Homo sapiens: one gene and its partner. Changing the gene in region 1 together with any one later gene gives a genetic interaction. Each region holds a gene or a part of one and is shown on either strand. Other genes may lie near its edges.

Region 1 (3,813 bases):
CTTCCACGTGGTGTTGGGCCTGTGGGTGCAAAGAATTCAATAACTGACGTTTGGGAACCTTCACCTACATTTCAGAGGATGTAGGGAAACGCCTGGATGTCCAGACAGAAATCTGCTGCAGGGGCAGGGCCCTCATGGAGAACATCTGCTAGGGCATTGCAGAAGGGAAATGTGGGGTTGGAGCTCCCAGAGTCCCCACTGGGGCACTGCCTAGTGGAGCTGTGAGAAGAGAACAACCATCCTCCAGACCCCAGAACGGTAGATCCACCAAGAGCTTTGCACTGTGCACCTAGAAAAGCCAAAGACACTCAATGCCCACCATGAAAGTAGCTGAAGGGGGTGGGTGTGGGAGGGCTGTACCCTACAAAGCCACAGGGGCAGAGCTGCCCAAGACCATGAAAGCCACTCCCTGTATCAGTGTGCCCTGGATGTGAGACACGGGGTCACAAAGGAGACCATTTTGAGCTTTAAGATTTAATGACTGCCCAGCCGGATTTCGGACTTGCATGGGGGCCTGTAGCCCTTTGTTTTGGCCAATTTCTTCCATTGGTAATGGGAGTATTTATCCAATGCCTGTATTTCCATTGTATCTTGAAAGTAACTAACTTGCTTTTGATTTTACAGGCTGCTAGGCAGAGGGGACTTACCTTGTCAGAGATGAGACTTTGGACTTGGACTTTTGAGTTAATGACGAAATGAGTTAAGACTTTGGGGGCCTTGCTGGGAAGGCATGATTTGTTTTGAAATGGAATGGTTTTGAAAGGAACATGAGATTTGGGAGGGGTAGGGGGAGAAATGACATGGTTTGGCTTTGTGTCCCTACCCGAATCTCACCTTGACTTGTAATCCCCAAAGTGTTGAGCGAGGAACCTGGTAGGAGGTGACTGGATCATGGGGGCAGTTTCCCTCATGCTGTTCTCGTGATAGCGAGTTCTCAGGAGACATGATGGTTCTATAAGTGTGTGGCAAGTTCTTCCTTGGCTTGCTCTTCTCTCTCCTACCGCCTTGAGAAGAGGTCTGTTTCCCTTTCTGCCATGACTATAAGTTTCCTGAGGCCTCGTCAGTTATGCAGAACTGTGAGTCAACTAAACCTCTTTCCTTTATAATTACCCAGTCTCAGGTAGTATCTTTATGGCAGTATAAGAACGGACTAATGTACCGATTAACCGTTTAATGAACCCACAACCTTGGGTAGAACAAGGCCTACCCAAGGAAAAATTATTTCACTCAAAATACCACTAACACCTGCTGAGAAGCCCTGATCCAGGAAACAGAGGTCCTGAAGAGACCTAAGTGCTGTCACAAGGGTGTGCTGACACCCAGCAGTGAGAGAAGGCAGAGTGGCAAGGAGGGGCCAGCAAGGCAGGCCAAAGGCAAGTGCTGGCCCCAAGGGCCAAGTGCATTAAACATTTCAGGGGTGGGTGGGAACTGAATGTGAATGAGGTCAAGTACCAAGCCGACTAAGACCTTGGATTTCACAAGCCACACCCTGATGTTCTCCCTTTGTGTCTCTTCATGTGGAGTAGATCAGGAGAAATAACCACAGAACCTAATTTGCTAGGCTTCCTACACCCAGTCATCTAAAATCTAGTCCCATTCTTGTGTCTCAAGCCAAACCGCCTAATTATAAGAAAAAAATAACAGATTACGGCAGATAGACTGTAAACTGCTAAGCAGGTGGGGTGCGGGAGAAACACAATGTCAGTGGGCAACTAAGTAGAGGCCTGGCAGCAGAACACACAAAAGCTTTACAAATCACCTTCGTGGGACCATGAAGAAGAGCTCGTACCAAAGAGAGCTGGCTTTATTCTTCATCTGGAGTTCCCCTTTGGCACTCCCCTGCGTGACACCCTCCCTTAGGGAGGGGAAAGGGTGGTCTAAAAACTGCAGCTCCAGACCTGCTCCTGGCAATGCAGGCTCAGCACAGAGACCTGCCCGGGTGTGCGCTGGCCTTCCCGCCAGCTTTGTTATTCAACAGTGGCCTCTACTGGTCAATAAAGAAGTGCAGCAAATGAGTTCAGAGGCTGGAGGGAATGGTTCAGGGCACTTATTTTTTCCATTTTGTTTTTTGCTTCCAAAGCATATACACGCGTACACAAAATAATATACAGTTTCATGTTTACTGATAAGAAACAAGTTCAAAAAAAGAGACGAATCTTGGTATCAGGGAAATTTTCAGAGGCCATTCCTTGCCACTTAAAATAGTGGCTTAACAAATAGCTACCACACAAAGTGAAATATAACCTTTGACCCAGCAATTCCATTTCTAGGAATCCATCCCACAGATAACATTGGTGAAGATAAAAAATGTATACACAGGCTATTCATTTCAGGACTATTTGTAAAAACAAAAAGAAATTAAAAAGAACTTGAGTGTCTATCAACAGAGGACCAGTCAAATTATGATACATATACCAGTGGGGTACTTTGCAGCTATAAATACCTCTACATGCTAGTACAGAACAAACTTCAGGACATATTACATGAAAAAAAAGAAGGTGGAGAAAAGTGTGTGACTAGGGCCTTTAAGAGGTAATTAAAATTAATGTGGTCATTAGGGTGGACCTTAATCCAATCTGACTAATATCCTTTTAAGAAGAGATGAGGACACAGGCATAGAGGACAGAGCCTCAGAAGAAACCAGCCCTGCCCTATCCTTGATCTTGGACTTCCAGCCTCCAGGACTATGAGGAAATACATTTCTGTTGTTTAAGCCGTGCCCAGCCTGTGTGGTAGAGCAGCCCTAGCAAACACAGTGCTGAAACAACTGCACTGCCATTTACAAATAATTTACAAATAAACCTTGGCCTTTATCTCATACCATATGGAAAACTTTGATATGGATCCCAAACCTAAATACAAGAGCTGAAACTATAAAACATCTAGAAGAAATCATAGGAGAAAATCCTACTGCCACCTGATGTTTGGCAGTTATTTCTTAAATATAACACAATAGCAAGAAATATTTTAAAAGTCAATAATTGAATTTCATCGAAATAATAAAAACCCTTCTTTTTTTGTTTTTTTTTTTTTTTGAGACGGAGTCTCGCTCTGTCACCCAGGCTGGAGTGCAGTGGCGTGATCTCGGCTCACTGCAAGCTCCACCTCCCAAGTTCACGCCATTCTCCTGCCTCAGCCTCCTGAGTAGCTGGGACTACAGGGGTCCGCCACCATGCCCAGCTAATTTTTTGTATTTTTAGTAGAGAGGGGGTTTCACCGTGTTAGCCCGGATGGTCTCCATCTCCTGACCTCGTGATCCGCCCACCTCAGCCCACAAAGTGCTGGGATTACAGGCGTGAGCCACTGCGCCCAGCCAAAGAACTAAAACTTAAGAAAATCAACACAATTTTGAAAGAAGCAAAGACTCAAGTCACTTTATCTAAAAAGACATATGGATGGCAAATAAACACGTGAAATGATGCTCAACATCACGAGTCTTATGGAAATGCAAATGAAAACCTCAGTAAGGGCCGGGGGCTGTGGCTCATGCCCGTAAATCCCAGCACTTTGGGAGGCGAGGCAAACTCCTGAGGTCAGGAGTTAGAGACCAGCCTAGCCAACATAGTGAAATCCCGTTTCTACTAAAAATACAAAAATTAGCCAGGTGTGGTGGCACGCGCCTATAGCCCCAGCTACTTGGGAAGCTGAGGCAGGAGAATTACTTGAAGCCAGGAGGCAGATGTTGCAGTGAGCTGAGATCATGCCACTGCACTCCAGCCTGGATGACAGAGAGAGCACCTCAAAAATAAAAAATAAAAAAAAATAAATAAATAAAACAAAACCTCAGTAAGACTGCTATACACCCAATAGAAT
Region 2 (3,813 bases), on another chromosome or scaffold:
AGCATACCCTATGTATGCCCCTGCGCAAATGCTGTACCAGTTGAGAGCCAAGTGTCACTAGTGGCAGTGACAGGAGCCTTGGGAGTTGGTGTCTTGTGGGTCATTGAAGGTTACTGTCATCTCCAGCTCTTGCAAGATGATTGGCAATAAAGGGAAATTGATATTCATTCTGGTGCTTTAGTAAGGTTCAAATAGTAAGGTTCAAATAACTGTTTGTACTTTGGATTTCTTTTTTTTTTTTTTTTTTTTTTTTTCAGACGGAGTCTCTCTCTGTTGCCTAGGCTGGAGTGCAGTGGCATGATCTCAGCTCACTGCAACCTCCACCTACCGGGTTCAAGCAATTCTTCTGCCTCAGGCTCCCAAGTAGCTGGGACTACAGGCGTGTGCCACCATGCCTGGCTAATTTTTTGTATTTTTAGTAGAGACGGGGTTTCACCGTGTTAGCCAGGGTGGTCTTGATCTCCTGACCTCGTGATCTGCCCACCTTGGCCTCCCAAAGTGCTGGGATTACAGTCGTGAGCCACCATGTCTGGCCTGTACTTTGGGTTTCTTAACACAAAGAAAACCTAACCCTTTCTGGCCGGGCGCAGTGGCTCACGCCTGTAATCCCAGCACTTTGGGAGATCGAGGTGGGCAGATCACCTGAGGTCAGGAGTTTGAGACCAGCCTGGCTAACACGATGAAACCCCGTCTCTACTAAAAATACAAAAATTAGCTGGGCATGGTGGTGCATGCCTGTAATCCCAGCTACTCGGGAGACTGAGGCAGGAGAATCAGTTGAACCTGGGAGGCAGAGGTTGCAGTGAGCTGAGATCACGCCACTGCACTCCAGCCTGGGCAACAGAGTGAAACTCCATCTCGGAAAAAGAAAAAAAAAACCTAACCCTTTCTTTCTCTTATTGCCAGCTTAAATGACTTTGGTTCATGTGTGCCCTTGAGTACCTGGCCGTGACTGGACATACAGAAATATGAGTTGCCTCCACAGTTAGTCCACTTTGTCTTTCAAACCCAGGGCATTAAGCTAGGCAACCAAAGAAGCTAAGCTAGGCTAAAAACAAGAGGCTGGCTATCAACAAATGTCAGGGATGGATATAAAACTGGAGAGAAGAATTACCTAGTTTCTTTCTTCTACTTTTCCCCCAATCCTAAGTTAGAGAAGAGGAACTGTTTTATGTATCTTGAGCACTCAGGAAAGGAGTAAAAAAGAGCTCGTAAGCCAATTCAATTAGACATGAAGATGGGGGAAGCTAAGGCCATTATGATCTAGCCTTAGTTCTGTAATCACTAAGAACCACATCCTAGGAGCTTTTTAGCTGACCAACTGTGGGTGGGCTATGGTGGACTCCAGGCTGGCCTTGTCTAATTTAGAGGCAAAGTAGCTTCTATACCTCTAGTTTTTCTCATGCAGCTGCTAATCACTGGCACAGAGCAGTTCAATCAGAAACCAAAGAAGGGGATTCAGTTTCTGCAAGAGAAAGGCCTCCTCACCATCCCAATGGACAACACAGAGGTTGCTCAGTGGCTCCGAGAGAACCCTCGGCTGGACAAGAAGATGATTGGAGAGTTTGTGAGTGACCGCAAAAACATTGACCTGTTGGAGAGCTTTGTGAGGTGAGGAAGCTGTAAGAAATGTGGGATATAGCCAGGTATGGTGGCTCATGCCTGTAATCCTGACACTTTGGGAGGCTGAGGCAGGCAGATCACTCGAGCTCAGGAGTTCAAGACCAGCCTGGGCAACATGGTGAAACCCTGTCTCTACAAAAAATACAAAAATTAGCTGGGCATGGTGGCATGTGCCTGTAGTCCCAGCTGTTCAGGAGGCTGAGGCAGGAAGATCACTTGAGTCTGGGAGTTCGAGGCTGCAGTGAGCTGTGATCATGCCACTGTGATAGAGTGAGATAGAGTGAGATAGAGTGAGATCATGCCACTGTGATAGAGCTGTGATAGAGTGAGACCTTGGCTCAAAAAAAAAAAAGGTGGGACATGGTTAGTGATCAGTTTAAAGGGACAGAACATCCCTACCTCAAAGCGGTCTCTATAAATTTCTTCTGGAGACCCTAGCCAATGTTCTTCCTCTACCCATCATTTATATCTATTGGACCTGAAAGGGACTCCAACGAGATAGTTTGGGGAGCCCCCTCCATTCTGCATGGAGTCCATTCCAAAGGGGTAGAGCAGGGTTCCAGGGGGTGAGGGTTCTAGGCAAGAGTCCGTGGATGTGAAAAGTATTAAGGCTAGGGGTTGTGTTAGGGATGAACAGGAGATACTGCCCCTTTACTAGAGACCTCAGCCTCCTCTCTTCCAGTAAGAGTAGGTTAGGAGGACAGTGACTAAAAGAGCCTGACATGTGCAGCTTACACATTTTCAGCCTCTTCTTCCTTTCTTTCCCTATAGCACCTTCAGTTTTCAGGGTCTGCGACTGGACGAAGCCCTCCGCCTCTACCTGGAAGCCTTCCGTTTGCCTGGGGAAGCACCAGTCATCCAGAGGTTGCTGGAGGCATTCACAGAGCGTTGGATGGTGAGTTTGAGTGTCAGGGGCTGAGCCCAGGATCCAAGGTCAGTTTGACTGAGGGCTGAAGAATCCAGCTGCTGTCTCTTTTTTTTTTTTTTTTTTTTGAGACAGAGTCTCGCTCTGTCACCCAGGCTGGAGTGCAGTAGCGCAGTCTCAGCACACTGCAACCTCCACCCCCCGGGTTCAAGCAATTCTCCTGCCTTAGCCTCCTGAGTAGCTGGGATTTCAGGCACCTGCCACCAAGCCTGGCTAATTTTTGTATTTTTAGTAGAGATGGGTTTTGCCATGTTGGTCAGGCTGGTCTCGAACTCCTGATCTCGGGTGATCCGCCCACCTCGGCCTCCCTGAGTGCTGGGATTACAAGCGTGAACCACCGCACCCAGCCTGCTGTCTCTTAAAAAGTCAGAGAGCAAAATTAGTGACCTTTCCACAAAGAGATCAGCTTCTGTTAAGGAGTTGGCAAGAGACTGGCCACTTTCTGGATGGTACCTCTCCTCTGTACTAGCACTGACCAGTGGGTTGGTAGTGAGGGTTTAATTGGCCAGAGAAGGGCATTGACACAGGCGGGATCTTTGCTTTTTCAGAATTGTAATGGCTCCCCATTTGCCAATAGCGATGCCTGCTTTTCCCTGGCCTATGCTGTCATCATGCTTAATACTGACCAGCACAACCACAATGTTCGTAAACAGAATGCACCCATGACCCTGGAGGTAAGCTTGGGTCCCAGTCAAGGCAAAGAAGACCCAGCACAGCTTGGGAGGTAGCAGGAAGGACATAGGATTTCCAGTGGGCATGATGGATGGGGTTCTGTCCAAGGGAATCAGGAAGGGCTGGCCAACCTAGAAAAGGGACTGGGGTGGGGAAGTGGGTTTTTTCGCTTACCTTTTCCTAAGTCCTATTTACTGAAAACCCAGGAGTTCCTTAGGTGGGGCTTCAGTGTTGACACAAGGGGAAAAAACTTACTGGCCTGTCTCTAGGAGTTTCGCAAAAATCTGAAAGGTGTGAATGGAGGCAAGGACTTTGAGCAAGACATCCTGGAGGACATGTACCATGCCATCAAGTGAGTATACATAGAGAATAGTGCAGTATCTCTGTTAAGAAGAAGCACATTGCTTCCTTTCCCAGTTTTTAGAGTCATGTCAGACTGCAGTGACTCACATGCCCTGGATTTAGCCTCAGGACTTAGTTGGGCAGCCCCCTCTCTGCCAACTGTTTCTTCCTTAAAGAAGCCCAAATGATATTGGGACTCTAGTACTCTAAGCCAGGGTCCAAAGTGCTGCTCTTAAGTAGGATATCATGGC

Evidence for each region.
Region 2: changes in UBE2G2 (region 1) and GBF1 together harm fitness more than expected from each alone (negative genetic interaction), as found in Homo sapiens cells (one study listed by BioGRID).

What each region holds. Positions count from the first base shown.
Region 1 is NC_000021.9:44,791,518-44,795,330, forward strand, and holds part of UBE2G2 (ubiquitin-conjugating enzyme E2 G2), read right to left. Parts: intron 1-3,813. UniProt on the Homo sapiens protein: Accepts ubiquitin from the E1 complex and catalyzes its covalent attachment to other proteins. In vitro catalyzes 'Lys-48'-linked polyubiquitination. Involved in endoplasmic reticulum-associated degradation (ERAD).
Region 2 is NC_000010.11:102,363,989-102,367,801, forward strand, and holds part of GBF1 (Golgi-specific brefeldin A-resistance guanine nucleotide exchange factor 1), read left to right. Parts: intron 1-1,408; coding exon 1,409-1,611; intron 1,612-2,394; coding exon 2,395-2,518; intron 2,519-3,096; coding exon 3,097-3,222; intron 3,223-3,489; coding exon 3,490-3,572; intron 3,573-3,813. UniProt on the Homo sapiens protein: Guanine-nucleotide exchange factor (GEF) for members of the Arf family of small GTPases involved in trafficking in the early secretory pathway; its GEF activity initiates the coating of nascent vesicles via the localized generation of activated ARFs through replacement of GDP with GTP.